3 separate regions of the Homo sapiens genome follow, and all the other regions are linked to region 1. Evidence: fine-mapped expression QTL. A gene starts in region 1. Each other region holds a variant in brackets. All regions are shown on one strand. Distances are from middle to middle. Region 1 holds the start of SNX9 (sorting nexin 9). Region 2 has its middle 31 kb from the start of SNX9. Region 3 has its middle 55 kb from the start of SNX9.

Region 1 (10,798 bases):
GTCATGAGGACAGAGCTCTCATGATTGGAGTTATGCCTTATAAAAGAGATCCCACCGCGCTTGTTCACCCTTCCACCATGTGAGGACATAGCGAGAAGATGGCTGTCCATGAACCAGGGGGCACTCACCAGACACTGAATCTGCTGGTGCCTTGATGTTGGACTTTTCAGCCTCCAGAACTGTGAGAAATAAACATTTGTCGTTAATAAGCCACCCAGTCTATGGTATTCTGTTATAGCAGCCTGAACAGACAAGACAGACATTGGTACTGAGGATCAAGATGAAAGTACCTGCTCAAGTTCACACAGGTGACAAGCAGCAGAAGTGAGTTTCAAGCCAAGGATGCCTGATGCCACGACCAAGGCCATCTCTTCAGCACTCAGCACTCAGCAGTGGGTGGGCTTTCTGATGAAAGCCCTGGGGAAGGAGAACAGGACTCACAAGGGATGGAGGCTGTAATTTGCAGTGTCTGGCTCTAAATCATGGCGGTCACAGCAAATGTCCTGTACTTGTATTTAGCAAGCACTGTCATTAGAGTTGCCTTCCATAAAGCAAGGATATGAGAGTGTGTCAGTGTGTGCTGGCATGTTATGTGGGGCTTTTAGCTTTAAAAGTAGCACTTGAGCCAGGCGTGGTGGCTCACGCCTGTAATTCCAGCATGTTGGGAGGTCGAGACCAGTGGATCACGAGGTCAGGAGTTTGAGACCAGCCTCGCCAAAGAGACCAGCCTGGCCAATATGGTGAAACCCCATCTGTACTAAAAATACAAAAATTAGCTGGGCATGGTGGCAGGCACTGTAATTCCAGCTACTTGGGAGGCTGAGGTCGGAGAATTGCTTGAACCCGGGAGGCAGAGGTTGCAGTGAGTCAAGATCGTGCCACTGCACTCCAGCCTGGGCAACAGAGGGAGACTCTGACTCTAAATAAATAAATAAATAAATAAATAGCACTTGAGCCCTGGAGGTCAAGGTTGCAGTGAGCTGTGATTGCATCACTGGTTTGTAGCCTGGGCAACAAAGTGAGACCCTGTCTCAAAAAAAAAAAAAAAAAAAAAAAGAACTCTCTATAGTTTGTGTATTAGTCAGGGTTCTCTAGAGGGGACAGAACTAATAGGATATATACACAAACACACACACACACACACACACATATATATATATACATATATATATGAGTTTTTTAAGTATTAACACACATGATCACAAGGTCGCACAATAGGCCACCTGCAAGCTGAGGAGCTAGGAGAGCCAGTCTGAGTCCCAAAACTGAAGAACTTGAAGTCTGATGTTCAAAGGCAGGAAGCATCCAACACAGGAGAAAGATGTAGGCTGGGAGGCTAGGCCAGTCTATTCTTTTCACGTTTTTCTGCCTGCTTTATATTCTAGCTGTGCTGGCAGCTGATTAGATGGTGTCCACCCAGATTAAGGGTGGGTCTGCCTTCCCCAACCCAGTGACTCAAATATTAATCTCCTTCGTCAACAGGCTCACAGACACACCCAGAATCAATACTTTGCATCTTTCGATCCAATCAAGTTGACACTCAGTTTTAACCATCACAGTTTGTAACTTGAGCAATGACACATGAACTAGCAAAATGTCCTATATCCACTGTTACTTCTTTGTGCCCAATCACTGAATGCCAGTACGTCTCCAAGGACTCACGCCAGCCTGTCCTTAACAGGTCAAAGAATTAAAACAATATCCTAGGGCAAAGTTTCATGAGACACCAGGGATCCTACAGGCTGGGACTTCATTTGGGAAGCCAACTGGTGAGCCAATCTTCTCTTGCTGCCCTCACCTCACAGCTCAGTCCTTCTGGGAGTCGGAACTACCCAAACTCAGCAAACAGTCTAGTATAGAACCTTGAGCAAACGGTTCCTGTTCCAGCCTAACACCGCCTGCTGCTGCCACCTCTGCCATCCATGCAGCCTCCCTAGCCTCCAGTCTCTCTCTGCCCATGCCAACTGTCCCTTCCTGGACTGCTCAGGTCCTAGCAGTCAGATTTCTGCTCAATTTCTAGTTCTGGACACTATGTCCCGTTACTGTTTACGGCTCTGTGTCTCCCAGACGATGGAGAAAGAAATGTGACTTAGTCAAAATGGAACAAAAATGAAAACCAACCAATCAGCTAACCAACTAAAACAAACATAATTTTAAAACCATACACTTTTCATACATACATTCAGCTAGTCTAATGCCAAGGGGAAACCTTATAGGAAAAAACCTCTCCTGCTTCTCTTTATTCCTATAAAGATTCTTCAGAGCACTTATAAAAGCACCTGGCACATTAGACATTTATTTGTAGTTTATTGACTTCCCCCACCCTCTACAGATTGTTAAGTTCTAAGAGAGCAGGGACTTTTGTCTCCCTCACCTGTAACAGCATCCAGTCCAAGGTGAGGACGTCATACGTTTATTAGGATTGGAATGGCACCAGCTGCACTCCTTTCCACGTTTATTTTCAAGGTCACCCCAAGGTTTTCTTTAACCTCATTAAATTCATGCCCTAAAGTGAGAGGAGGTATCCCCTTGTGCCAGACCCAGGCTGACTCTGTATTGTTACACATTATTCTCATCCTCCGATCCTTACATTAGGTGACCATCACACATTTTCACTCCGTTCCACATTAGTTCCCATAGTTGCACTTTCCCATGCTAGTTTCCCATTAGTTGACCAAGCATTTAGTTGGGCTCTGAGCTCTTAAAAACCAAAGGAGAATCTAATTTTGAATAAAAACACCTGGCCATACTGAACAAACGCAGGGAAGAGGTGGTGGTCATTATTTTCCTGTCCCCCCAGCTGTGTGGCTGGACGAAGCTTCCTGTGAATCCTAATCACTTTACCTCCTGTGGCATGATTCAAAAAAAAAAAAAAAAAAAGCAGCTAGAGTACAAAGCCTAAACAGAGTGGCTCTGTTGCTCTGCCTCCAGGTCTTTTTCTTTTGAAAGTGCAATCTAGTAATAACCAAACGCAGTCTGCAAATGCAAATCCAATTGCTTAACTAATTGTGTTCTCACCCCTGGAGTAATGGAAGTTCATGCTGTAGAAGAAAATCTGAACTTAGCATGGCCCAGGGTTCTGGGTTCTGGGTTCTAAAGGCAGGCCTGCGTAGAGAATCAACTCTAAGGAAGCTCGCTCAAAGGACGGAGGTGGACAGAAGAGAGATATGCATGGTTGATCAAGTGGGAGCAGAAGACAAACGCCACCACCGGGTGCAGTGGCTCACGACTGTAATCCCAGCACTTTGGGAGGCTGAGGCAGACGGATCACTTAGGATAAGGAGTTTGAGACCAGCCTGGCCAACGTGGCAAAACCCTGTCTCTACTAAAAATAAAAAATAAAAAATAAAAAAAAACTTAGCCAGGCATGGTGGCAGGTGCCCGTAATCCCAGCTACTGCGGAGGCTGAGGCAGGAGAATCACTTGAACCTGGGAGGCGGAGGCTGCAGTGAGCCGAGATTGGGCCACTGCACTCCAGCCTGGGTGACAGAACAAGACCCAGTCTCTCTCTCTATATACAAATATATTCTATGAAAGTGGGTCTCCTCTATAACATTCATGAAGTAATGTTGATTTTGACTGACGTATATAAAAATAAAACTCCTAAGTTTAGCAGTATTTACTGGAGATATACTACCCAATTCATTACTAAAAATGTGAAAAAGATTTTAGTTATGTTCAAGATCCCTTCGGTGTGGCTTATTGTGAAAGTGCACATGTTTATCTCTTTTTTTTTTTTTTTTTTTTTGAGTCGGAGTCTTGCCCAGGCTGGAGTGCAGTGGCTCGATCTCGGCCCACTGCAACCTCCGCCTTCCGGGTTCAAGTGATTCTCCTGCCTCAGCCTCCTGAGTAGCTGGGACTACAGGCGCGTGCCACCATGCCCAGCTAATTTTTGTATTTTTAGTAGAGACGGGGTTTCACCATGTTGGCCAGGATGGTTTCGATCTCTTCACCTCGTGACCCGCCCGCCGCAGCCTCCCAAAGTGCTGGGATTACAGGCGTGAGCCACAGCGCCCGGCCATGTTTATCTCTGTTTATGTACTTTTTCATTTGTTTTTCACAGTCTTGCTCTTTTTAAAACAACAACAACAACAAAAAACTTCTAGAAATGAGGTCTCACTATGTTGCCCAGGCTGGTGTTGAACACCTGGGCTTAAGCAATCCTTCCACCTTAGCCCTCCACCATTACTTCTAAAAAATAAAACCAGGGTTATGAAATTGTTCTGGTGGGAAAAGCTTGAAGTCTCTAGTCTTCTTGCTTTCATGGTGCTGGGTGCCCAGGATGACTATTTGCATAGGATTTGCCAGATGAGCATGTGGAAAGGCCTGTCTTCACAGGTGTGCCCCTAACTTTGCACCTTCCTATCAAGGGATGCATTGTTGAACGGCTGCAGAGAGAGCTGTACCCAGCCTTCACATTTAAAAGAATATGGAAAACTCATTACTTATGACATTGCCTGAGTTCAAATCCTGGCTTTTCCACATACTAGTGTGTGCTCTTAGCCAAGTTATTTCTTCCATTGTTTATTAAAATATAACTGCTGTTTTTAAATGAAGTCATATATACACATGGTCAAAAACTCTGACAACAGGATCTGGCGAATCTTTCTCAGAAATTTTCTAGGAATGTGTCACATATTTCCTTTTTTTTTTTTTTTTTACATAAATGTACCATACATAATGTTCTTTTTATCTTTCTTAACACCTCTTAGAATATTATCATTTTCTTACGGGCTTCCTAGTATTTTTGTTTGAATGGATGTATCTTATTTACTGAAACAGTCCTGTTAACAAACACATAGGTTGCTTTCTGGTTGGAGTTATTACAGAACAATCTTTGATGAACATCTTTGAACACTTGTACAAGTGTTTGACAGGATAAATTCCCAGGAGGGCTGCTGGGTCCAAGGCTACGGTCATTTTCGATTTGAATAAGTATTACCAAATGGGCAAGTTATTTAAGTGATCCCTGAGTCGCTCTTCTTTGTAAACAGTGGACAATAATGAGTTTCTCAAATGTTTCTTATAAGGATTAAATGAGATGGGGATGTGGAAGCCTAGTATACAGCAAGCAGGCCGTCAATGAATGTTGGCCTCCCAATATTTTTTTTTACGGAGAAAGACAACTATTTATGCATATTATGATGACTATAGCTTAACCATGAGCTCAACAAACACAAAAATTCACAGAAAATTCTGCAATACCGTATCTATTTTAAACCCCATTATTGAATATAACTAGTGAAATCTCAGGTCAAATAGAATGTATTTAAGAAGACACAAACTTGACATTAAACACCAGAGATTTACATTTGATAGTTGTCTCTTCTTACAAATATATCCCTCATAATAATAAAAAAGCACTCCACTAGTATGCCAATTAAGACACATCTTCCAGTCGTGTTTTGTCCTTGAGTGAAAAATCTTGCTGCTCAATTCAAGTCATTCGTTTATTCATAACACCCATATATATATCTCCAACTCTGGAAAGAAACACTGACAGAAAGATGGAAAATTTTAGAGACCTCGTTTCCACTTCAGAGAGCCTGTTGTCCCCCAAACCTCTCGGGCCCTCCGGTATTTTTAAGCTTATCAAGATTCCAGAATGAGGTTAACGGGGCGTCACAGAACGAAACCCCCCACCGTCCCGTCCCAGGGGCTTCAAGCCAGGACCCCGGCCTGAGGGAGCCTCCGGGCAGGAGGAAGAGGCCCAGGAAGCCATCGCTCCGCTCCTTCCCAGCTGTTTATGTGGTACTCAGGGTACTCGGCCAAGGGCACGGCGACCCCGCAACACCCCAGGCGTGGGGCAAAGACAGCGGGGTTGCGGGGCTCCTGTCTGCCCGGGGCGTCGAGAGTTCCTGCCGCCCCCTCCCGCCTCATGCACGGAAAGCGCCGAGCCACGGCGTGCGGCGCCGGCCGAGCGTGAACCGGAGTCGGGGTTCGGCTACCCCGAGCGGCTCTGTGGGCCGCGGATCGCTTCCCCTGGGGCGGCCACGCAGGGTTGCGGGCCATGGCCTGGGGCGCCCGTCCGGACCCCGCCGCTGCGCGGGACGCCGCTCCCAGCCTCGACCAAGGGCGCCCGGGGGCGGCGGCGGCGGCGGCGGCGGTGACTGCCCGGGGCGGCGGCGCGGCGCGGGGGCGGCCAGGAGGCGAGGAGGCCGGGCCGCGGCCGAGGGCCCAGGGCGCGCTTCCGGCGGGCGTCGCGCGCGCCGCGGTAAATGGGAGGCTCGGCCGACAGGGGCGGGGGCCGCGCAGCCGGGGACTTTCAGGAACTGCAGGAGCGTGCGGCGCGGGAGTAGCCGAGCGCCCAGCGGCTGGGCCTGAGCGTCGAGACTCGGGGCCGAGGCGGAGGAGCGGCCGCCGCGCCGGGGCCCAGCCGGAGCCGCCGCCCTCGCCCTTGCCTTTGCCTGCGCGGCTCAGAATCACCATCCGCGGCGCGGGAGACGAGCCGGCCGTCCCGGGCCGGGGGACCCGCCCGCCATGGCCACCAAGGTGAGGGGCGCGCGGCGCAGGCCGGGCCGGTCGCTCAGGCCCGGGGCGGCGCGGAGAGGGTCGGGGCCGGGGCCGCGGGGAGGGTCGGGGCCAGGGGTGGTCGAGGGGCCACTCCGCTTCCTCGGTGGAGTCCCCGGGCGGGTCCGCGGCCCAGCCAGTCCCTTCTGGGCATGGGTGCGGCGGGCAGTGCAGACAGACCACCAGGATCGCACCGGGGGACGGCGTCGGGTCTGGGCGCGGGTTGGGACCCCGGGCGCAGCGAGGTTTGGGAAGTTTGCACCTGAGCGTGGGCTGCGGCGGGCTCGCCGGGAGGGGCCGCGGGACGGAAACTTCCCGCAGCCCGGGGAGGCCCCCGAGGCGACTGGCGCTCTGTGGCGTCCGGCGTCCCCGCCGCCCCCACGTCCCCTCCCGCTGCCGCCTGGGGGACCCTCGCCCCCGCGGGGCGGGTGGGGGTCGAGACCTCGGCGGAGAGGACGCGGCGCTTCCCGTCCCGGCCTGCGGGGGCTCGCGGCCGGGGAGGGACCGAGGCTGGGACGCCCCGCGCCCCTTTGCCTTCGCTGCTGTTATTTTTTTCTTTTGTTTTGCTACCTTTTCATTGTGAATGGCATTGCCGGCATGAATAAAATATCAAGAGGGAAATGACTGTGCTTTCGATTACGTGTTTGCCTGAAAAAAGGCCCAGGCCCGAATTACGTGGTGGAACTTTGACTCCTGCTTCGTCATTGGCTAGGAGCGGTGGTTTGCTTGTTTTACGTTATTGTTTATGAAATTAGCAGTCACTCTTGGCTACCTGAATTTTCAAAAGCCACCCTCCCCCGCTCCTTTTCCTTGGGCGTTTTCAGTAGTTACTTGATGTAGAATAGCCACTGGGGAAGTCACGGTCACGGAAGGGAGGACCTGGGGGAGGAGGCTCTATACCTGAGCCATTAACTGATCTGTGATACACTGTGAGGAGTGGGTTTACTTTTGCACTTAGTTTTTGTAATGTCACTTTGTTAGCATCAGCACCCCTTTGTCTATTTGTTTTTGAGATCTCTGAGCTACTTTTGGGTTGCTAGAAACGTTATTTTTTATTTTTCGATAGGTGTTTGCTTTTTTTGTGGAGTGTTAAGGTAGAAAATGGTAAGAAATGTGAAATCTCTTTGAAAGATCAGCATTGCTTGACTTCGGTCTGCTAGATGTTGTGCTGTGGTAAATTTTGTGCTCTGAATCCATCTAGGTGCAGCGTTTGTAGAGAAATGGGGATTCTCCTCCAGGGAACCTGTTGCTGCTGTTACTGAAATAATTACCTTCTTGTTAATATATTATTGCCTGTGCTGTGCTTTGGTTTTATTAATGCGATAGAACTTGCCACCTTTTTAACGTATTAATTTTGTGTTGACCTTTTTAAAAATAAAACTTAGGCCAAGGATTTCTAAGGAAATTTGATTTTGAGGTTTGTTGCCAGACATTCCAGAAATTACCAGTTACACATCCTAGTACATGCTCATCTTGCAACCTTAAAAGCGGTTTATAGGCCGGGCGCGGTGGCTCACTCCCACCTGTAATTCCAGCACTTTGGGAGGCCGCGGTGGGTGGTTCACCTGAGGTCGGGAGCTCGAGACAAGCCTGGCCAATATGGTGAAACCCTGTCTCTACTAAAAATACAGAAATTAGCTGGGCGTGGTGGCGCGCGCCTGTAGCCCCAGCTGCTCTGGAGGCTGAGGCAGGAGAATCGCTTGAACCCGGGAGGCGGAGGTTGCAGTGATCCGAGATCGCGCCACTGCACTCCAGCCTGGGCGACAGAGCGAGACTCCGTTTGAAAAAAGAAAAGACGAGACTCCGTTTGAAAAAAGAGAAGACGGTTTATGACATAGAGATCTGTCTAGTGGTGGTCAGTGTGTTTTTACACTCTGGTCTACTGAGGCATGTTATCTGTACTGTCCTTTAAGTGGAATGCAGTTTAGCAACTAGTGCAGGTATATATAGTGAAATTTTTATTTCATAGTTAATCCTGAACTTAATTTTTTTCCAAAAAATCGAAAAGTGGTTCTTGTATATTAATCTCGAATTGCATGTGTCTTTGATTAAACACGAGCCTTAAAGCATGCGTAAGGACTTCCTACTTCGTTATCTACACCACTCCAAAGGCAAATTCCAGTAGTTCTGTTAGTTTCTTTCGGCTGCCTAATCACTGTTCCACATGGTGCTCATTTCCATGTTTACATTGTGACAAACCATTTCCATTTTAAGAAAAAGAAGAGCAACGAAGCAGTTATTAAAAGAAGACCCTTCCTTTGTTTTCTGACATGCTGGTGATTCTTGTGTCAAACCAAAGTCTCATTTTTTAATTGTTCCCAGAGAGTCAAGTTGGTGCTTTCCTCCCTTCCCCCATATGCACACTCCTTCCCCACACCTGAGTAGTTGTGTTTTTTCTTTGTCTTCTTCAAGGGGTGGGGAGAATGTGCTTAGTAGTAATGACTAACTTTTAATAAAAATGTAGGCTCCAGTGGCACTCAGGCTGTTGCTATAAGTATTAACTGATGAAAAGTAAATTCAGTATCTGGATATTTTAAGGGATGTCGATTTCCCTTTGAATTTATCAGAGACTTGGCTATAGTATCTTCAGATACAATTTTCTTGTTTGTTCTTACGTATTAAGGATGTGGTTATCACTGAACTATTGGGATTTTTAAAAACTCCACTACTATATTTTACAATAAAAAAGGAAATTATCTTTTAGAAGAAGAACTTTAGTTTGACAGTCCTTCACTGCTAAAGAAAGTTAATCAGGGTCGGGCGCCGTCTCACGCCTGTAATCCTAGCACTTTGGGAGGCCGAGGCGGGCGGATCACGAGGTCGGGAGATCGAGACCATCCTGGCTAACACGGTGAAACTCCATCTATACTAAAAATACAAAAAAAATTAGCTGGGCGTGGTGGCGGGCGCCTGTAGTCCCAGCTACTCGGGAGGCTGAGGCAGGAGAATAGCGTGAACCCGGGAGGCAGAACTTGCAGTGAGCCGATTTTGCGCCACTGCACTCCAGCCTGGGTGACAGAGTGAGACTCCATCTCAAGAAAAAAAAAAAAAAAAGGAAAGTTAATCAGTAACTGCACATTTTAAGGGGATTATCTATTTTCTATTTCTACTCCTTACTCAGTAGAGTGCTGCATTCAGTTTAAGTGTATACACTCACTCAGTGCAATCAAGTCTTGTTTTACAAATATTAATACAAAAGCTGCAGAGCATTTTAGTCTTGACCTTTATTGGAAGCCTCCAAAGGTTATATTTCGACCCAGCCAAAATATAACCTATTTATATTATAGGTTTTATATATATATGATATATAAATATATTATATTATATATATATATTATATTTTATATATAAATATATATTATATTTTATATATATATTATATTTTATATATAAATATATATTATAGTTTATATAATATATAAATATATATTATAGTTTATATAATATATAAAATATATTATAGTTTATATAATATATAAAATATATTATAGTTTATATAATATATACATATATATTATAGTTTATATAATATATACATATATATTATAGTTTATATAATATATACATATATATTATAGTTTATATAATATATAAACATATATTATAGTTTATATAATATATAAACATATATTATAGTTTATATAATATATACATATATATTATAGTTTATATAATATATACATATATATTATAGTTTATATAATATATAAACATATATTATAGTTTATATAATATATAAACATATATTATAGTTTATATAATATATAAACATATATTATAGTTTATATAATATATAAACATATATTATAGTTTATATAATATATAAACATATATTATAGTTTATATAATATATAAACATATATTATAGTTTATATAATATATAAACATATATTATAGTTTATATAATATATAAACATATATTATAGTTTATATAATATATAAACATATATTATAGTTTATATAATATATAAACATATATTATAGTTTATATAATATATAAACTTATAGTTTATATAATATATAAACTTATAGTTTATATAATATATAAACATATAGTTTATATAATATATAAACATATATTATATTATAGTTTATATAATATATAAATATATATTATATTATAGTTTATATATATATGAGATATATAAATATATAATACATTGTCAGTCATCCTGTTTTATTTAAAAGATCAAGTTCTGGAAAAGAAATGAAGAATTTTTTTTCAGTGTCTGTCAAAGGGGACATGAAGAAAATTGTTAGTGGAGGTTAATCCATATCTATATAATTT
Region 2 (10,798 bases), 30 kb before region 1:
GGTCTTACTAGAAAAAAAAGGCTGACCCTCCCCTGAGTAAGAGAATTCCTTCTGCCTGACTGCCTTGGAAATGGAACAACAATTTTTTTCCTGCCTTCAGATTCAAACTGAAACCATAGGCTCTTCCTGGGTCTCAAGTCTACCAGTCTTTGAACTGCAACTACACCATTGGCTCCTGGTTCTCTGGCCTTTGGACTCAAACTGGAGTTACGCCATCAGCTCTCCTGGGTCTCCAGCTTGCCAACTCACCCTGAGGATCTTGAGATTTAGCCTCTGTAATCACACAAGCCAATTCCTTATAATAACTCAATCTCTCTTTCTCTCTCTCTCTCTCTCCCCCCCACCCCTCTCTCTGTGTATATGTGTGTGTGTGTGTGTGTATTTGTGTGTATATGCATACACATATATAGTACGTATATATTTTTTCTGTCTCCTGGAGAACCCTGACCAATACACACTCCCAAGCAGCAGCAGCTCAGAAAAGCTCAGGGCATCATTATGTCATAATTTCCAACCCAAGACTGTATAGGTTACATCAACATTGGTCATTAATATCATCATTACGAATTCTGAGAATATGGGAAATATTCTATAATATTATAAATATATGATATAAATTAAATTTGTATAAATATTTGAATTCAAAAATAAAGTAGATTTCACTAATAGCTAATTATCATTTTTATAAATTACCAACTCCTTACATATTCTTAAGCTATAAATTCTGTAGCATAACTGAATGACCCGTGTTTTCATGAGACCTTAATATCCCCTGCAAATCCCAGCACAGTGCTGGATATAAGCAGTGTTCAATGAATCTTCATCAACTGGAATTGAGCCTTTTGTTTGAACATTACAAAGTTAGGAAACATAAACCAACTCTAATAATCAGAGCTAATATTATCGAATGCTTATTATCCAACAAGTACATACTCAGCACTTTGTGTGGCTATCTCAGTCTTCATAACAATCTTTGAATATTATTATTCCTACTATACAGATGAAGAAATTGATGATTAGCAAGGTTAAGTAACTTGTCCAAAGTTATATTGTTAGTAATAACAGAGAGAAGATACTAGAGATAAATCAGAAGCTCTTAATTTGGGGGTCTAGGGACACCCATATGTTGTCAATAAGCTTTCAAGGGTCTGAAAAACTATTTAAATATGGATATTAATTTTTTTCAAGGGAAAAAGCCTGGAGGTTCTTTTAGCAGTTTATGAACCTTAGAAGATGAAAGTCACTGTCCAGCTACAGGATCATAAATCATTGAGCTAAGGCATCAACAGTGAACTATGTCTGCATTGGCTTGTCTAGAAAGATTCCCATATTTCATTATTCTCATTCAAAATCTCTTATACTTGAAGCACAATTCTGAAGACGGTTAACTTCTTTTACAACTCAGAAAAATCAAAATTCTAAAAAGATGTTCTAGAACTAGTTTTCCCAGCACTTCTAGGTAGGGGAATGTTAGACCAAAACCCACTAAATATTATAGGGTGGTGGAATCATCCCTTATAATACAGATTTAAATAATCCTTCACTAAATTTTGCGACATAAAGTTTTGTCGAAAGGTTCACAACATACAACTGTGCTTTGTTTTCCTGGAAAAGCCCATTTTTCTGTAAATTAAGTTGTATGTTAAATGCTTTTAATTAGGTGGCATGATATAGTGGATGGAGGCTATAGGATTGGAATCAGAAATCCTGGGTTCAAATTCTCACTTGGGCATTTAATAGCTGTATCACTGTGGGCAATTTACTTACTTCTCTGGGTCTCAATTTCCTCATCCTCAAAATGGGGATAAGAACATTTACTTTATAGGCCAATTGTAAAGAATAAACAAAATAATTATGAAAAGGGCCTAATGATGTACCTCGTACAAAAGAGGCTCTCAAAAATTTTGTTTGGTGAAACCCCATCTCTACTAAAAATACAAAAAATTAGTGGGGCGTGGTGGCGGGCGCCTGTAGTCCCAGCTACCCGGGAGGCTGAGGTAGGAGAATGGCGTGAACCCAGGAGATGGAGCTTGCAGTGAGCCGAGATAGCGCCACTGCACTCTGGCCTGGGCCACAAAGCGAGACTCCGTCTCAAAAAAAAAAAAAAAAATTGTTTTTACTTAAGATTTGTCAACTATTTTCCAAAATAATCACCCCTAGTTCACCTTTTATATAAATTTATATATTGCCACAACAGGTTTAGAAGCAGTATATTGTGGAACAAGGGTCAGCAAACTTCTTCTGTAAAGGGATGGCTAGTCGATATTATAGATTCAGGAGCCATATGGTCTCTGTTAAAACACCCCAACTCTGCCATTACAGGGTGAAAGCAGCCATAGACAATCCATGAATGAATGTGCTGTGTTCCAATATAACTTTATTTACAAAAAGAGGCAGCAGGCTGGATTTGGCCATCCCGCTGTAGACGGCAAACTCTACTGTAGAAGAGAAGACTGTACAAACTTTGAGTTATACTGCCTGGATTCAAGTTCTGACTGCCATTTATCAGCTGTGTGACCTTAAGCAAGTTATGTAATATCATTGTGCTTCAGTTTCCTTATCCACAAAATAGGGATAAATAACAGTACTTCTTCATAGAGTTGTTGTATTAAATGAGTTAAGAAACCTAAAAGTCCTCAATAATCACAGAATAAGCGCTCAGTCTCAGTTATTATTTTAACTGAAAGCGAGTGGCAGCTTTTACATCGCTTAGGATTAAGTCCGAATGACAGAAACCCAAAGTAACAAAGGCTTGAACAAGAGAAGCGTACATTTGGCCCTCTCATCAGTTACGTCTGAGTGACCAGGGCAGCTCCACCATCCGCAGGGACCCAGGTTCCTTCTGTCTTGTTGCTTCACCAACTTCGACACGCGGTTTCCATTTCTGGGTCCACGCTGGTGTTCGCGTTCCAGCCATCAGGACCACTTTCCACACCGTCGCCAGGAAGGAGGAAGGCAGGGAGGACGGGTGCATCCACTCCCTCTAGAGATGCTGCACTCCCACGCCCTTGCCGCTTATTTACCATTGGCTAGAACCTAGTCACATGGCCACAGGGAGTGCAAGGGGAACTGGGAGATGTAGTCTTGTTCCGAGTTTTCCCTGGGGGAATTCCATTTCCTGTAAGGAGAAAAAACAGGTATCAAGGTAAAACCTGCAGTCTCTAACACAGCCTGACTTTCCAATACCCAGCACATTAAAATCAAAACCTTTAATTTAATAACAAGAGTAAAGAAAGGTAGCTGATGGGGGCACTTTGAAATAGGAAGAGCACCACAAAGAAGAGAAGATAGGGCAGCGCAGGTGATTTCCTCAAGATTTTGTTCATTTGTGGCCTGTTTGTTGTGAGATTGACAGGGAGGGTCTGGGGTACAAAAATCATATCCGACAGTCCTTATTTTCTTCCTCCATTTACAAAGGATTGAGAGACTGGCACACAACCCCACTCCCCCCACCCCCAGCCCTGTTTTCTGTATTCTCAACCTAACCAGGGCAGTAATAGATAAGGTAGGAGGTGGACTCGGTCCTTGGGAGGATTCAACTGGGAAGCTCTGGGATAACACAGGAGACCTGGCACTGCTTGTGAGCTCAGCTTTGACTCTATGACCAGGCCTTATCTCTGCAACCACAGCCCACCTCAGCCAATTGTCCTTGCATCCCACACAGCTTTGCCCTCCCTCTCATTCTGCTCTTGTGTTGTCTTCCAGAAGTTGGGTGTAGGGTTCTGGGAGGAAACTCCTTTGTCTTTCTGGTTCTCTGTTCTCTCCCTAAGTAGCAGGAAACAGAAGTAGCAGCAGCAGCTTTCAGAATTAGGTGCTTCAAAGGCTGAAACAGCTGAATCCATTAAAATCCTGTGGTCTGGCTCCTAACTGTTTCGATCATCATTGTTGGAACGGTTTGGGAACCCACTGGATGAGAACAAATTTCGTTGGAGTCACTCTGATGCATTTTAGGGCTGTAACTATGGGTTTTTTAGTAAGATTGTTTCTGGTGTTTCAGTTTTGTTTATAAACAGATTGTATCAGAAGGTTTTTGAGTGAGCATCTGTCAGATTCTTGCAGTTCTAGCTTATGCCATTGAATACTTTGACATCATGTATTTTTCACCTCCCAAACTGCATATGCAGGTTAAATTAATTCAGTGACTAAATTAATGATGATAGTCTTCTATTGCTATTGTCTATTCCATTCAGAAGAAAGTTTTGTAGTCTAGTACATACAATGGAAGTTATTTTTCCTAATAGCAAAGCAAAGAATAAACTGTCTCTTTCTTTGAAAGCCAATTAGTCCCCTCTGCAACTATCCAATCAGTCTCCTGTTTGAGTTGGCTGAAAATGCCTGAAATAACCATAAACCATAGCACCTAGGACAATGCCTGGTCCTTGGTAGGTTTTCAATAAATGTATCTTGAATAAATAAATGAGAATCATGATTTTGCTTATGAGTATTTTTGAAAAGCTGTGCCCATCCTCCTCAACAAATACTTCTCTAGCACTTGGCAATGTGACACCTTTCTTCTCCTTGGCACAAACTGCAGGTGTTACAACAAAAATGTGGCAGGCTGTTAAGTCAGTCCAGAGCAATTGGTAATTAGCCCACATCAGGGCAACACTTGATATTTCCAGCAGGACAAGCTCTTGCATTGCACGGGGGTAATGATTGTTTTTCTCTTACGCCTTTCTCAGCTTGGATTCATTACCTCATCAACAAGTTACTAATTATTAAAATTTCCAGTCAACATGAGGGATACCTATTGGTATGATTATGAAGGAATCATTTAACAAGAGGTTTAGAAAAAATAATCCAGCAGAAAGCTAACCCCATTGAAAACACTTGAACCCTGGAACATTTAATTAAGGTGATCTGGAAACACAAGAAAAGCAAAACTCCTTCATATTGTTGCTTGTCTCTTTGTTTTGGATTTCCGTGGGATCCAGTCCTTTTGAATTCAGTTATTTTACTTAATTAATTTATTTTTCTAATTTTACCCCTCCCTCCCTCCTTCCCTCCATCCCTTCCTTCCTTCCTCCCTCCCTGCCTTCCTTCCTTCCTTCTTTTTTTTTTGATACAGAGTCTCACTCTGTTGCCATGTGGAATGCAGTGGTGCCATCTAAGCTCACTGCAACCTCCGCCTCCCGGGTTCAAGCGATTCTCCTGCCTCCGCCTCCAAGTAGCTGGGACTACAGGCGCGCACCACCACACCCAGCTAATTTTTGTATTTCTAGTAGAGATGGCGTTTCACCATGTTGGCCAGGATGATCTCGATCTCTCGTCCTCGTGATCTGCCCGCCTTGGCCTCCCAAAGTGCTGGGATTACAGGCATGAGCCACTGTGCCCAGCCGATTTTTTATTTTTTAATTGACAAAAATATATATCTTTATCATGTACACTATGTTGTTTTACTACATGTATACAATGTAGAGTGGCTAAATGAAACTAACATGTGCACTACTTCACATACTTACCATTTTGGGGTGAAAACACAAAATCCACTCTCTTAGCAATTTTTGAAAATATATTTTTATTAACTAAAGGCACCATTTTCTACAATAGATCTCTTAAACTTAATCCTCCTGCCTAGCTGGATTTTGTATCCTTTGACCAACATTCTCCCCAGCTGGCCTCCCACCTCTCCCCCAGCCCCTGGTCCTTCATATTATTAAGAGCCCTTCAATGCTCAGTGTTTTAAAAGAGCATGTGTTAATTATTTAAAGTATTTAGTGTGTTTGTTTTGGCTTCAACCTTGTCCAGTGGATGCTCAGAACTTTTTCACTTCCAGCTATTGTTCATATATCCACCCCGTGCCAGCCTGATGATACCAGAATCACTGGGTTTTTCTGTTGTTGTTGTTGTTTTTGTTTTTGTTTTGAGACAGTCTTGTTCTGTTGCTCAGACTGAAGTACAG[T/A]GGCACAATCTCAGCTCACTGTAAGCTCCACCTCCCGGGTTCAAGCAATTCTCCTGCTTCAGCCTCCCTAGTAGCAGGGATTACAGGCATGTGCCAGCACACCCAGTCAGCTAATTTTTGTTTTTTGAGTAGAGACGGGGTTTCACCACGTTGGCCAGGCTGGTCTCAAACTCCTGACCTCAGATGATCCACCCGCCTCGGCCTCCCAAAGCGCTCGGATTACAGGCGTGAGCCCACGCACCCAGCCTTAGAATTACTTTTGATAAATACCAAGTAGGAGGCATTTTATTGGCTTCAAAATAGAAGTTAATGTCTTCACAGCTGAGGAGGTCCATTTCTGAAACCCAAGGACCTTGGCTTTGGAGACATTCATGCTATGCCAAAAATATTCCCCATCCCCCGCCAAGTTTTTATTCATTCCCTTTCATTGTTTTGTGTATGTACCAACTTCTTCCCTCCAACCAGATCTTTTTTGTTCCCTCCAACTAGTATCTTCTTTTAAGCATCTCATATTCCTGGTCTTTTAAAAAAAGACAATATATATATAAGCTAAATACTAATTTTCTAAAGTAATTCACTCAAAATATCTAATTAATAGGATGCTAGCGAATGCTGGTCTTTTACAAAAAGCTAAGTTCCTTAGCAAGCAGGACTTGGTCTTGCTCATGCTTGCACCCATCCTGCCTCAGCAACCCCAGCACCTTGCACAATTCTTCATGCACCTAGCAAGTCTGCAACAAATACCTATGAAATAAAAGAGGAGACATGACCATCAAGCAGTAGTTCCTATTTTCTTGTGTGGCTTATAACCTGATTTGAAAGTACTTACAAAAATATTTTGAGGGGTGGCCCCATCAGGTAAATGACCACATGGCTCCAAGGGGTCTGCTTTGAAAACAGCCTCATGTGAAACCCTAAGACCTGGTATATTTGTTGGGGGACAAAAATGGTTTTCTTATTTTGCAGACATTTGGCTTTATGAAATTTTAGAATATTAAAAGTATATCTTGTTGGTCAACTAGGCTAAGCTTTCTCGTGAAGAAGCTGATATGGTTTGGCTGTGTCCTCACCCAAATTTCATCTTGAATTGTAGCTCCCATAATCCCTATGTGTCATGGGAGGGACCCAGTGGGAGGTAATTGAGTCATAGGGGTGGGTTTTTCCCCTGCTGTTCTCATGATAGTGAATAAGTCTCACAAGACCTGATGGTTTTATAAAGGGCAGTTCCACTGCACACGCTCTCTTGCCTGCCACCATGTAAGACATGACTTTGCTCCTTCTTCGCCTTCTGCCATGATTGTGAGGCCTCCCCAGCCACGTGGAACTGTGAGTCTATTAAACCTCTTTTTCTTTATAAATTACCCTGTCTCAGGTATGTCTTTATTAGCAGCATGAAAACGGACTAACACAGAAGCTAAGGCTCAGACAACTTACAGAACTTATTCAAGTCATTAGTTCACAGTAAAGGCAGGGCTAAAGCCAAGTCTTCTTACTCCCTAAATCACTTGATATTAATGATATTTTCTTGAACTACTACATTGTTTTGTCCATAGAGACTGCTAAAAACGAACACACAACATCTTTATATTTTATTTATTTATTTTGACTAGGAAATTTTCTTGAAGAATTAGTAAGAGAAGTCTTATTTCTGATAGGCCATTACATCTAAAGATTTATAATAAAAGAGAGTTTCTTTTTCTGACCCAGATAAACTTAGCAAACATGAAATACATAAAACATAAAACTCTACTTATTCTCTAGCTTCCTATTAGCTAGATGTTTTAAATGACTTACTTTTAAAAATTAGTATTTAGCTTATATTTATATTGTCTTTTTTTAAAAGACCAGGAATATGAGATGCTTAAAAAAAAGAGACTAGATTTCCCCAGATGCAAGGTGAGAATATTGTCCTGCTCAAACTTCCTCCACCAAAAAAGGAAAAGATTTGGAAGAGCAGAATTTAAAAAAAAAAAAAAAGTAGAAAATTGAAAGGAAATAGATCAAGATGAATTTTAAAATAAAGTAAACTGATCAACAGAGACTAGAAACTGAACAATCATATGCAGTATGTGCACCTAGTTTAGGTCCCATCAAACCAAATATGAAAATGAAATATAAAAACACATCTTGAGGCGGGGCACGGTGGCTCATGCCTGTAATCCCAGCACTTTGGGAGGCCAAGGCGGGCGGATTGCTTGAGGTCAGGAGTTTGTGACCAGCCTGGTCAACATGGTGAAACCCCATCTCTACTAAAAATACAAAAATTAGCTAGGCATGGTGTAGTGTGCCTGTAGTCCCAGCTACTCGAGAAGCTTAGGCAAGAGAATGGCTTGAACCCAGGAGGCAGAGGTTGCAGTGAGCCAAGATTGCGCCACTGCACTCCAGCCTGGGCGACAGAGAGAGACTACATCTCAAAAATTTAAAACTTAAAAATTAAAACATATCTTAGGGATATTTTAGAAAACTTGAATGTGGATAGGGTATCAGATATTGTAAAAGAATTATGTTGTTAATTTTGTTAGGTATGATGATAGCATTATGATTATATAAGAAAATATCCTTAGGTTTTTGAGATGTACAGTGATGTATTTAAAGGTTAAGTGTCCTGATGTCTGGGGCTAGTTTTAAAATACTTCAGCAAAGGGGAACATAGATGAAACATGGTGAAATATTAACAATTGTAAAATTAAAGTGATAATTTTATAGTAATTCATTATATTATTCCCTCTGCTTTTACACATAAACTTGTTATAAACTTTCATAGGAATAATGCCAAAAGCACATTTGGGCAAAGGGAACAGTCTTCCCAATTTAACCTAAGTACAATTTCAATGTTGGAACAGCGTCTGGGGTGGTATAACACTAAAAATATCTTTGACGTAGAGGTGCAAAGCTAGCCAGTTACTGGACAAAAGTTATACTTCTTATCTTCCTGTAAGTAAAAAATTTTAAATTTAAAACTACGAACAAAATCAGTATTTTATTTAAAGAGGAAGTGTGACTTGACGAATTGGCATTTTAGGAATAAAGGAAGTCAGAATCTGAAGTCACTCCCAGGAAGGATCCACATGAAATTACAGCCAACGAGGTCTGTCAGGATGCCTTTAACCCATGGATTTAAGTGATCTTTTTTTTTTCTTAATTATTGTTCCTGTCTTCTTCAGTGCTTCCTTCAATATAAATATGCTCGCAATGCTGTTTCTTGGATAAATCTCACACATGTTATTTCCTTAAACTGCCAACGGAATGGTGTTTGGACTATTAGTAAGGAGTATAGCTTTTTTAAATTTATATTGGATCTGTCAGACCAGAGAAGAGAGGTGTGAGTCAGGACAGGCCAGGTTACGACGTACAAGTTAACCTTGAGAATCTCAGTGGCATTAAAGTTCATCTCTCACAAAAACTCTACTGTTGGTCAGCAAGGCAGTGGGGGAAGAGAGGGGAATAGACTGGGTGGGGAGCCAGGCTGCCAGAGGATCCATCTGGTGGCTGCGCCATCTGGAACTTGCCACAGCAGGACAAGAGAGACTGGGGCTTCTCGACAGTCACTTTTGCTCACTTTCCTTTGGCCAGAACTGGTCACAGGATCCCACCTAACTGCAAGGGGGCAAAGAAGTGTGGCCTCCTATATGTCAATGAAGGAAAAGAGAACCATGTTTCGGTGGGCACCCTGTTTACTTCATTGTCATTACATGCTGCGTAGATGTATTGATCATCCATCTATGCAAAAACTATTTGTTGAGTATCTATTACACACAGGCACTATTCTAGGTACTGATGACAATTCAGGGATTTAATTAAATGGCTGCATTCCATAAAGGCGAGTACACAATAAGCTCAGCTCTTTTCTTGCTCACCAGAATAAAATATAACCCCAAAGGACAGAGATAAAAATCTGTTTGCTGATATACACATAATACATATCTAGAAGGTATTATATATTATAAATACTTAAAAAAATTTTAATTACTATCAAAGATGATTATTGGAGTGTCCTAGCTGTGCTCCTACTGTGTAATCTCTGTAAGCCTCAGTTGCCTCCTTTGTAAAATGGATAAAGGGATAATATTATGTACCTTAGAGAATGGTTGCAAGAATTAAATGAGATGATGCATGTAAAGGCCCACAGTACCTGGCACACAGCAAGTGCTCTGTAAATGTAAAATACACAAGTAATTTCTAATTAAAGTTAAATAATTTAAAATAACACAAAAATTGAATTTAAATTGTTAGGAAGCATCCTTCCTTCCTGCCCCCCTGTCATCCATGTCTGGGAGCATAGTATAGAGTACTGGAAAGAAAAAAACTAGAATTAACCCTGTGGTGTTAGATTTGGAATTGGAAGTATCGGTATGAATTCAGTTTTTAATATACACAATAGTAATAATATAAAGCATATGCTTTGACATATGGAGATAAAGAAATGAAAATAAATGTAAATGTCTGATACATATGTGGTTGTATGTGTGTGTGTAGATAGATACATCTATAGCTCTATTTTTATTTAAATAATAGATAGATCGATTGTCTAACTCTTCCTCAGAGCAATGATACCCATTCACAATGTGCACACCTAGAGTCTAGACCTTGGTTTCTAAATATCATTCTTTACTAAAAGGATTCCAAGGTTCTTGGGGAAATGACTGATTCCAGGGTTGGGGCAGGGAAAATACAAGATGGGCCTGGAATATCTTTTGTGCCAGAAAATAGAGAAAGGCTCATTGAAGGACAGAAACATGTTAAAAGCTCATAGAAACCAGTTTGATGGGCCTCACACTGGACAAATCCAGGACAACTTGGCATCAAAATAAGTAACTATAGTAAGGGATGATAGTCCACTAAATAAAATAGGAATCCGGAAGTCTATACTGATGCAATGAGATGCTACAATAAATA
Region 3 (10,798 bases), 54 kb before region 1:
GTATCATGTGTATTTAATATGCACATGGAAGATACCAGGGAGAGATGCCTTTGAATTCCAGCTTAGACAGTATCTTCAACAAAGAACAGCTAATATTTAGAGAAGTGACAAGGAAAAGGAAAAGGAAAAGGACTCTGAAGAGTGTCCCGGAGCCCGCTGTGGCTAGGGAGGATGCAGTGGGGGTTGGGGGAAGTATTTTTTAAAATATTTTAAAAATAAAAGCAGAAAAGGATTTCGAGTCTCTAGGGGGCAGCAACTTGGGGAGAAGCAAACAACTGGCAGAGGAAGGCTGCTCGGTGAGGCTTGCCCATGTGGGTTCCTCCAGTACCATCTCCAGGCTGACAGGGTTTGAAATTGTCTTCCGTGGTTAACCTTTGTTCTCCCTGGTGGAAGGGGGACAGGACACCTTTTGTCTTTGTGCCCCGCTTTAGGCAAATAGAGCGAGGGCAGAGAGCTCTCCTGCATCTGCTTTTTAATGGCCTTCAGCTCAACAATCCTTATGCATATTTGGGGGTTGCATATTCTCCTCTTCCAAGCTACACAGATTATACGTCTCAATGTAAAACACGATCTTTTTCTTCATTACCTAGAAAGTGAGGGAAGTCACGCCCAGAGGGTGCTGATGTAGGCCTGGTGATGAGGGTATAGGTGGCCACCGTCCCAGGTGGGCTCCACCTCTGCCCTCTGTGATGTGGAGTAGGGGCTGGGGCTCCTTGGGTACAAGGCAGGGAAAAGGGGAGGGCGGCGGGGTTGAGGAAGCTGCTCCGGGCTTCCAGGCCAGACCATCCCAGAATGAAAGGAGTTTTCCCCATGGATCTCCAGGCCTTCTCCATGGAATTTAGACAGCTGAAGGCAGACACAGGTCCCTGCGGGGAAGTACCTGCTCCCTCTTCTAACAAGTGCAAAGCAAGCAGGGCAAGGCTCCGAAGGGAACAGCTGGAGCAGGCCCAACCCCAGGTGGCCCTGGGGTTCCGTGGTTGACCCGGAAGCAAGTCAGGCAGGGAGCCAGGAATGTGGTGACTCACATTAGCTATGTGGAGAGAGACCAGGGAGTGTCCCTTCCAGGTGGAACCCCTCCTCCTCCATGAGTCACCCGGCTCCATACACCTGCCTGATTCCAGCAGCCCAACACACCTGTGCCAACTAGCAGCTTATGTTTCTCATGTGCTTGCCTGTCTGTCCTATTGACGATTCCTCAAAACACCAAGGGGAGGTAGCATGAAATGTTATCCTGGAAAACCTTTGTGAGTTAGAAAACGTGGCCAAGTGCCCCCAGTTGATGACTGGCAAATCTAGAATCAGCCTCATGACGTTTCCAGTGTGTTACACAAACCATCCAGCCTTGCTGCTTCTCCAAATACTGTATCTATGAAGTATGCCAGACTCTCAGCAGAGAGGATTTCTACGGCAGTGGAAGAGAGCAAAGCAGGTGTCAAGGTTCATTAATCTCATCTTGGTCCCTTTCTGAAAACTGACACACTATATCCAGGTTGCTTTTTAAAGCTCTGTGTACGTATCATGCAAATGTATACTTGCTTTGTGTATGCATGTTTAGGACTATTTCTGATCCAGATGCTGTACTAAATTAAGCTAGTTTTAATGATGTTATTCTGGAGCTAACATAGTCTTCCGTGGTATTTCCCATGGCTGTGCTCTGTCTAGTATATTTCCAAGTCATTACCCGGCTCATGGTCATTGGCGTTCACATTGAAGTGGCCACAGATAGAGAATCACACAAGCTTCACATTGAATTCAGTCCATTAAGGCCTTTTCCTTGGTAAAACTGAGGGGGAAATATAAATTGAAGCAGCAGTAACCAGCAAATAGACCTTCTCCCAATCTACCCGAAACTGGCTCTCTGCCCTCAACCATGTTCAAAAGCCTTTGCTATAAATGTACAGAGGAAGTAAACTTTAACCACACTGGGGCTCTAAAAAATGACTCTGGTTTCTGTATGTGACTTTCATAAATCAGTTTAATTACGTCACATTTCCACCTCAATTGTATGATAACAAGGTCTGAATTGCCCAGTAGAAGGCAGAAAGAAAAAAAATCCGGATGTTTTTGTCATATGGAACCTTCCTACACAGTCTGTTTTTCCCCTGGAGCTGACGATGAATCACTTCTCAACACTGGCGGGGGCCATCACGTGGCCGGCATGGAGCTCGCCTGGAGGAGCGAGGTTGAGGCAAGCTCTGTGCAGGAATGTGGCTGCAGTGATGTGGCCTGACACTTCCTTAGGGAGTCCAAATGTGACTAAGGCTCTTTCTCAGTACTGTATGGAATGAATAACCACATGTGAGAAGATGTACAGCTCCTGCCTTGCATCACTGAGCTGGAAAATTTGCTGGTAGCACGTAACATCTCTTGCAAAGTATAATTACAGATCCCTGTGCTCTGAGGGTTTGCACGGAAATAATTCAACCTAAAATAGTAACAAAGGCTGAGTATAAACCTGTGATGTATTATTTTGGTGCAAAAGTAACTGCGGTTTTTACCATTACTTTTAATGGCAAAGATTGCAATTACTTTTGTGCCAACCTAATAGATTATCTAAAAAGGAACAGGAAGAACACCAAGAGTTAACAAGCCTATTAGGGTTAGAAAGAGACTCCTCTTGCTTAGACAATGGGCGTTACCCTCAGGGACACCGAGCCCTTCCACTCGGATCTGATCTCCTCCACAAAGAGTTAGATGGGAGATATTTATGGGCAAGTATTTGGGCATGGATATTCCCGCTCCCACCACATTGCAGAGGTGCATGGAGGCACACAGCTATGACTGTGGGGGCTTCGGGTGTTCATTTTGAAATATATTTGTTTTTTTTTGTTTGTTTGTTTGTTTTCTGAGACGGAGTCTCGCTCTGTCGCCCAGGCTGGAGTGCAGTGGCGCGATCTCGGCTCACTGCAAGCTCCGCCTCCCAGGTTCACGCCATTCTCCTGCCTCAGCCTCCCAAGTAGCTGGGACTACAGGCGCCCGCCACCACGCCTGGCTAATTTTTTGTATTTTTAGTAGAGACGGGGTTTCACCATGTTAGCCAGGATGGTCTCGATCTCCTGACCTCGTGATCCGCCCGCCTCGGCCTCCCAAAGTGCTGGGATTACAGGCGTAGGCCACCGCGCCCCGCCTGAAATGTATTTGTTTTGTTTTATCATTTGAGCGTAGTTTAGTAATTTTCCAGAGAGAGAGGACCTGGCATAGATTCAGCAGTGTCACCCTCAAGAGCCAAAATGTTCACATCTGCTAATGTTCCATCCTGACCCTCCTGCTGTAATATTTATTCACAGGGGAGCTTTGGAAACAAGTAGGGTATGAGTCAGGAAAGCCTCTCCGTGCAGACTCCTTTGCACCAAAAATCTTCTAAAAGGTCTTGGGTCCATGAGCATTGTTGTCTGGGAGCACGTTTCCCCACCAAATTATCCTTAAAAAAAATCTTTTAAAAACAGCTCATTGTCATCAAGACAATATTTACAGCACACACATATTTTCCAGAAGATTTTAATAAATAGTTGGTGAACTATCTTGTCACTAACTTAGTCCCTGCTTAACTTTGTCTGGGTGTGAGTATGATGCTTCATTTTAACTTGTTTTGAATTCAGACACCTGGACACAACAATGGACACCTACTGAGTCCTCCGTCCACTCACAATGATTCCCAGCTCTCTGGTAACTCTGGTCCCCCATTTCAAAGGGATGAACTTGTCACAGGTCACCTGCCTCCTGTCTATAATATTGTGGACCAGGATGGCGACCTTACCCAGACTTAGCCACTCACTGGCGCTTCCCCTGGAATATAAAATGGAACAAAGAAATCTTTCCTATTGCTGGACTCAAAATGTGTAACTTGGTGCTCCCCAGACCATGTTCCGTGCTCCCCACCTTGCACTGAGGTGCGTGGAAGTTGGCCTACAGCAACGAGAGACAGAGCCCTGAAAGCTTCTCAGACTTCAGTCCTGCCCTTCCACAAGCTCTGCGGAGGCCCAGTCCTGCTTCTACTGGACACTTCTCAGGTATTACATTTTTCTTGTTTGCTTAACTCTGGATGATTGTACCCCATAGAACCAAAAGATTCCTAACTACTATCTTGGAATCCCATCCTTCTGTGGGGCTCGGGATGCCAGCTGATTGGACAAGCCTTGTGGCTTCTCTCAGGCACTGACTCTGAGTTCTGTATGAGGGGCTTCTGGACACTTGGGTGTGAAATCTGGCCCATTGATTCTAAGGATGTGTAATCACTGAAACCTGTACCCCCAATAAATCTTTGTTTCCTCAACTGTAAAATGAGAGAAACTTTTTTGAAAATGTGAATATGATAAAGTGCAAAATGCTTGGACATTGGGGTTAGCCTTGGGATAAAGCCACGTTCAGGGTCTCAGTTTCCTCATTGGGTTGTTTTGAAAATTAGAAATATATATAGGTAAATGTACCCAGTATGTGACAAGTACTAAATGAAAGGTACTTTTATTGTTACTATTACTAATTACTCCTTCAACTGTTACTAGCGCTGCTTCTCCTCCTTGACCTAATGAATGTGAAAGCTCTTTGTCATCTATAAATGTCAGTTCCCCAATAAAGACATACTCAGAGGATCTGCCTTCAATATGAAGCTGCCTCTGACTGTCTCATCTTTGGTACTCAGCTGGAGGTATTTCGCTTGCTGGCACTTTAACTCCCCTGCTCTGAGCGGTTGAGCTAGCACAAGGGCCATACAGAAGTAGAAACAGACTTTCTTTTCTCTGTCTTTGAATAAGAAAAGATGAAGCAAAGCCATGATGGGAATGCTGTCAACGCTGGTGACAGTGAGGCCTGGACGCCTGTCCTCAGGCCACTTCACTGCTCCGAGTTTTCTCATCTGTAGAGCCAGGATGATGGCAGCACCTACCTCATGGGGTCATTAGAAAGACTGAGGGTAGTATGTGGAAAGTGGGGCCCGACACAAATTATTTTCATGGCGACCCTCTAGCAGCCATGAAGTCTGTCCCTGCATTATCGCGAACCTTCCATGTGTTTTTCCTCAATCAGCAATTTTCCTACTAGGTCATCATTTTGGGAAAGAGATAAATCAAACCTCCTTCCCTGAACATTTATTACTTTATTTGGGTTTTT[T/A]AGGAACTGAAATTTGCATTCAATGCAAGTTAAACGGAACAATTTTGACTGTTCAAATGTACCACAATCTCAGTTCATATGAAGATCCTGTTTTCTCTTTAATCACAAATCATTTTAAAACAAAAGTTAAAGTAATTTCATTCTAGAAAATTGTTTAAAAAGTGACATGTTGAAGATGAAAGTATGGCTTGGGTTCCCAATGTCAGGCCAGAATTGATTCCCAGAACTGCCTTGGTAAATGGTAATACTGTGAGGCCCTCGGAGGGTGCAATGGGGAGGTGCAGGGCATGTGACCTCAGAGTGGAGGCTCCTGGGGGGACAGCTGGGCCATGTCTGCTGCCTCACAGGCCATCAGGGAGTAGGGGGATCTACTCTTCCTGGTTTGTCCAGGACCATCCCAGTTTTAAAACAAGAGTCTCAGGCCCAGGTACTTCCTCAGTCCCAGGTGAACTGGGACAGTTGGCCACCCCAGTCTGACCTGTCTCATGTTCCTCTGACCCTTCGGTCTCACCATCCACGCTAACCCCCGCCTAACCTACTCCATAGACTTTTCTTAAATTTTGTTTTTCCTTCCTTTACCTACATGGCAGAAGACAAATATAACAGAAGGAAAGAAAGTGACTGGGGAGAGATAATTAAGTGGGGTTGGAAATGATTGTTTCTTACAGCCATGGCCTTGGAGTTGAAGGCCCGGCCCTCACTCTCCTCCCAGGTCAGGACCTCAGCAGCAGTCAACACCACCCTGGGGCTCAGCAGCACCCTGGGTTTAGCGCGATGGCTGTTTTGTCTTCTTACTTTTACATAAATGTTTTTAGAAGCAGATGAACTGGCACCGTTGACACCATACTTCACTTCCTCTTCATACCCTTTCTTCTGTGGGGTGTAGAGCAGGTCAGGAAAGATGTTTCCCCTTTCCAGCCAGAGGAAATACATTTGCAATTCAAATGAACCCTAACAGCAAATTGCCCTTGCCTGGTACTTTTTTTAACGTAAAATTTCCTGGGGACAAGTTGTTTCTCATGACCATCAAAGTACCATACGCATATTGTTGCAAACCAGAAAAACAGAGAAGAAAATTTTGAAACGCACATATCATCTCAGAAGTCACTTTTTAAAAACACAATTGGCCGGGCGCGGTGGCTCAAGCCTGTAATCCCAGCACTTTGGGAGGCTGAAGCAGGCGGATCACCTGAGGTCAAGAGTTTGAGACCAGCCTGGCCAACATGGGGAAACCCCGTCTCTACCAAAAATACAAAAATTAGCCTGCAGTGGTGGCAGGAGCCTGTAATCCCAGCTACTCGGGAGGCTGGAGCAGGAGAATCACTTGAACCTGGGAGGCAGAGGTTGCAGTGAGCTGAGATTGTACCACTGCACTCCAGCCTGGACGACAGAGCAAGACTCCGTTCCAAAAATAAATAAATAAATAAATAAATAAATAAATAAATAAATAAATACACACTTAATAGCAACACAAGCAGTGGACACTTTGGTGAGCAGTACTTGTTCAGATGAGCCATGCTGTCTTTCAGCAGAGCCACCAGCTCCAAGGATGCTCCTCGGGCCTCCCATGCAGCAACAGCAGCAGCAACAGCAGGCACTGCATTTCCCTCATTGCTAAGTGACAGCAGTTCTCTCTGTGTGTGACACTGAATTCACCAGAGAGCCTGGCATCGATCCGACCAACAATCAACAAATTTTTGCAGAGTTCTACTCTGATGCAGGCGCAGGCACCCCCATCTTCGTGGACAGGAAATACACTGAGCTGTACCAGCAGGAAGAGCACGCTGGGGCGTGGGCAGCCAGGGGATTTCTCCTGGTCTGCGGAGGAAGGGAAAGCTCCTGGAGGACAGGGGATGTTGTGCTGAAGTCAAGACCTGAAGGCTGAGTAAGCGTCAGCCAGGGGAAGACAGAGAGGAAGGGCGATTCAGGCAGAGGGGGTCACCTGTAAGGAGGCTCAGGGGCCAGGAGCATCCCTCCCGAGGGCAGCGTGGGAGAAAGCCACAGTAGACACACCAAGGCCGGAGAAGGCCTGGCTGGAGCTGAGGATGTCAGGGAAGGAAGGAAGGGACAGAAAGGGCCAGGTCTGGAGGCCTGTGTGGAGGATTTTTGGTGGAGGCCCATGTGGAGAGGCAGTGGAAGGGGAAGCACTGGGTGTGTTGTGGGGAGGGATCTAGGCCACACACCCAGCAGTGCTTGGAAATCGATGACAAATGCAGGTGAAAATGAGGTCCCAGATAACAGGTTGAAGAAGGAGAGCACCAGGGGTCTGAAAGCAGAACAGCAGCCCCCAGGGCATGGCTGGCTTCACGGGCAGGTGAGCTGAGCCAGCGCATGGTTGGGCTCAGTGCTTGAGTAAATGTTGTCACCATCTTGAAATGCTTAGTAATATTTGAACAAGAGGTCATGCAGTCTCATTTTGCACCAGGTCTGCAAATTATGTAGCTGATCCTGCCCAGGGCTGAACGTTTTCCACAGATCTATGCAGAATTTCGCACAGCTAATGGTACGTGGACTCCATCCAAGGCCTCCAGATTTTTTGTGGATACCATCAGGCAGGACAGGAGTGTGAGGGAGGCTCACAGCGCCCAGCTCAGGGCCGATGGTGTCTGTGAGTGTGTCAGGGATGGTGTGTGGATAAAGTCCATCAGAGCAGTGCACGCATGGAAGACTTCCTGCTCGCCAGCCATGGAGACAGGAGACTGAGGGCATTTCAATAACATGAGCTTTGAGTTGGCTGCCTGAGTAAAACAGGAATTTTCCTCACCCAAGTTTCATTTACTTTAATAAGTCAAACTAAAGAAATTCCACAAGTTCAAGCCAACACCAAATGGGTAAGCTATTTGCCAGAAAATACTTTTTAAAAATGATTTATTGGCCGGGTGCGGTGGCTCACGCTTGTAATCCCAGCACTTTGGGAGGCCAAGGCGGGCAGATCACGAGGTCAGGAGATCGAGACCACCCTGGCTAACACGGTGAAACCCCGTCTCTACTAAAAAAAAATAATAATAATACAAAAAATTAGCCAGACATGGTGGCAGGCGCCTTTAAGTCCCAGCTACTTGGGAGGCTGAGGCAGGAGAATGGCATGAACCTGGGAGGCAGAGCTTGCAGTGAGCCGAGATCGCGCCACTGTACTCCAGCCTGGGTGACAGAGCGAGACTCCTTCTCAAAAAAAAAAAAAAAGATTTATTATTTTATTTGGCTAAGAATTTCATAGGATGCCTGAGTCTCATGCTAAACAAAATTTGCACTGAAAATAAAATTATTGTTGTAAAGGTTTAAAAGACAATTTGTGAATATACCTATGCTTATATTTATTTCAAGGAGAAAAAAAGAGAGAAGGCTTTACCAAAACTTAAGATGTAACACAATAAGCTCATTATTCAGGCAACTGTCTATAAATTCACCAGGATTGCTATGCAAAATATGATAGGCCTGTAGGCTCTGAACCAAATAGTTATTAGTTCACTATGAAATAAGAAAATAAATGACTAAGAATAACTTAGTCATTTATGACTAAGGTATGGATTTATGACTGAGGTATGGGTCATTTATGACTGAGGTATGGATCATCGTCATGAATTTCTTTAGGTGTTTTATATTCACTTACAGCAGACAGTGTCTATAAAATACTAAAAATTATAAGAACAGGAAACTTGGCAAGCTCTTCCAGATATTTACAAGGCTAAATCTTCTGAAGCCTAGTAATACAGTTAATAGGAAGAGCTTTAAAGCCATAGAGTTTTAGGTTCAAACATCAGCTCCCTCTTCAGCAAGTTGCTTAACCCACGGGAACCTCAGTTTCCCCACACACAAATGGATGTAATATCTACTTTACATTTATAATATATATGTCGTAATTATTCAATAACTTGTATTTTTAAAAATAGTATAGCTGCTAACAGGCAGTTAAATGTTCAGAGATGGTAGGAACTGGTTTTGATTCTCAGAAGAGAAGAGGAATCGAGGTGGAAAGGATGGTGGAGAATGAGTCAATGAGATAGTGTCGCCCAAGATGCACGCAGGAGGAGCTGCCAGGGACATATCCAGAGTGGGCTGGCTGGTAGGCAATTTTTTTTTTTTTTAAGATGGAGTCTCACTCTGTCACCCAGGCTGGAGTACAGTGGCATCATCTCGGCTCACTGCAAACTCCGCCTCCCAGGCTCAAGCCATTCTCCTGCCTCACCCACTGGAGTAGCTGGGATTACAGGCACCCACCACCATTCCCAGCTAATTTTTGTATTTTTAGTAGAGAGAGGTTTCACCACGTTGGCCAGGCTGGTCTCGAACTCCTGACCTCAAGTGATCCGCCTGCTTTGGCCTCCCAAAGTTCTGGGATTACCGGCGTGAGGCACTGCACCCGGCCCGGCAGCCAAATTTTAAGAACCAGGATGCTGGCTGAAGGATGGGTTGGGGGGACTCAAAAGGGCAAAGAGGAAGAGTAGGGGTGCTGTCATGGTCATCTAGCTTGATTAGGGCTGGAACTAAGACAGTGGAGTGGAGGACAGAGAAAACATGAAAGCTATTTTAAAAATAGGATAAACAGCCTAGATGTGGAGTGTGAAGGAGAGGACAGGGATGGGTCAAGGATTTCTGGGGTGAAGGAGGCAGTGGGACTCCCAGCAGGTAGGACTGTGTCCCCCAAAAGATATGTTCAAGTCCTAATGCCCAGTACCTGTGACCTTATTTGAAAATAGGGCCGGCCTTTGCAGATATCATCGAATTAAGATGAAGTCTTGCTGGAATAGACCCCAAGTGGGCCCTAGGTCCAATGATTGGCATCCCTAGAAGAAAAGAAAATGGGGGCCAAACACAGGGATGAAGGCCAAGTGAAAAGGGAGGCAGAGAGTGGGGTGATGCATCCGCAGGCTAAGGACCAGCACAGCCCGCTGGCAGCGCCTGAAACAGACGAGGTGAGGACGAATCCTTCCCCAGAGCCTCTGGGGAGAGCATGGCCACAACGCCGCCTTGGTTTTGGACTTCCAGCCTTCAGAACTGGGGGAGAATACATTTCTGCTGTTTTAAAGCCACCTGCTTTGTGGTAGTTTGTTATGGCAGCCCAGGAAACTAGTCCAGGGACCTTCCCTGAGATAGGAAAATACAGAAGTGTGAGGTTAAGAAAGTGTGAGGTTAAGAAAACTAGGTTAAGGCACATTGAGCCCAAGTAAGGAGCCTCAATATGGGAAATCTTTGGGTGGAAACACGTGGAGGCCACTAGAGCGTGGAGCTTAGGAAATAATCTGGGCTGGAAATGGAGATCATGGGGGAATAAGGGGTGAGCTGGAGCTGGACACGGATAAGGCCACCCAGGGAGAATGGTGGGGAGAGACGAGAAAGCAGACGACGGGAGCTTCTCCCAACGGTTCTTGGTATTACAAACTCGACATCCACATCTGAGGGAAAGTGATGATGTCGTCACTAAGGCAATTCCAGCTGAGATACTGGTGAGCATATTTATCCTCTAAACACATTCAGCCTCCATTGTTTCATGTTTACTCTCCTAAGAGAAGACACCTACAATCCTTTCTCATGTCATGCTTCCCTTAATCGTATTTTTTTTAATTAAGTAAAAGTCAAGAAGAAAACAACACAAATTGATCAGGAAAGAATATTCATTCACCTCAAATACTGACTGGGTCCCTCCTTGACTGCAGCCAGGGTGCTAGGCCCCAGCTACACTGTGGACACAGTG

What was found.
Region 2: its variant is fine-mapped to the expression of SNX9 in whole blood (INTERVAL, PIP 0.98).
Region 3: its variant is fine-mapped to the expression of SNX9 in whole blood (TOPMed, PIP 0.93).

What each region holds. Positions count from the first base shown.
Region 1 is chr6:157,816,955-157,827,752 of GRCh38, forward strand. SNX9 (sorting nexin 9) reads left to right here and starts at 6,292. Exons shown (of 18, transcript NM_016224.5): 1 at 6,292-6,492. The coding sequence starts at 6,481. RefSeq lists a silencer at 6,101-6,420 and an enhancer at 7,071-7,120.
Region 2 is chr6:157,787,101-157,797,898 of GRCh38, forward strand. No RefSeq gene overlaps it. Among named protein-coding and RNA genes, the nearest start is that of SNX9, 31 kb to the right of the region's middle. The variant T/A (reference allele first, on the strand shown) is at 5,903.
Region 3 is chr6:157,762,527-157,773,324 of GRCh38, forward strand. No RefSeq gene overlaps it. Among named protein-coding and RNA genes, the nearest start is that of SNX9, 55 kb to the right of the region's middle. RefSeq lists enhancers at 1-792, 294-1,493, 1,066-1,135, 2,026-2,075 and a silencer at 1,426-1,535. The variant T/A (reference allele first, on the strand shown) is at 5,107.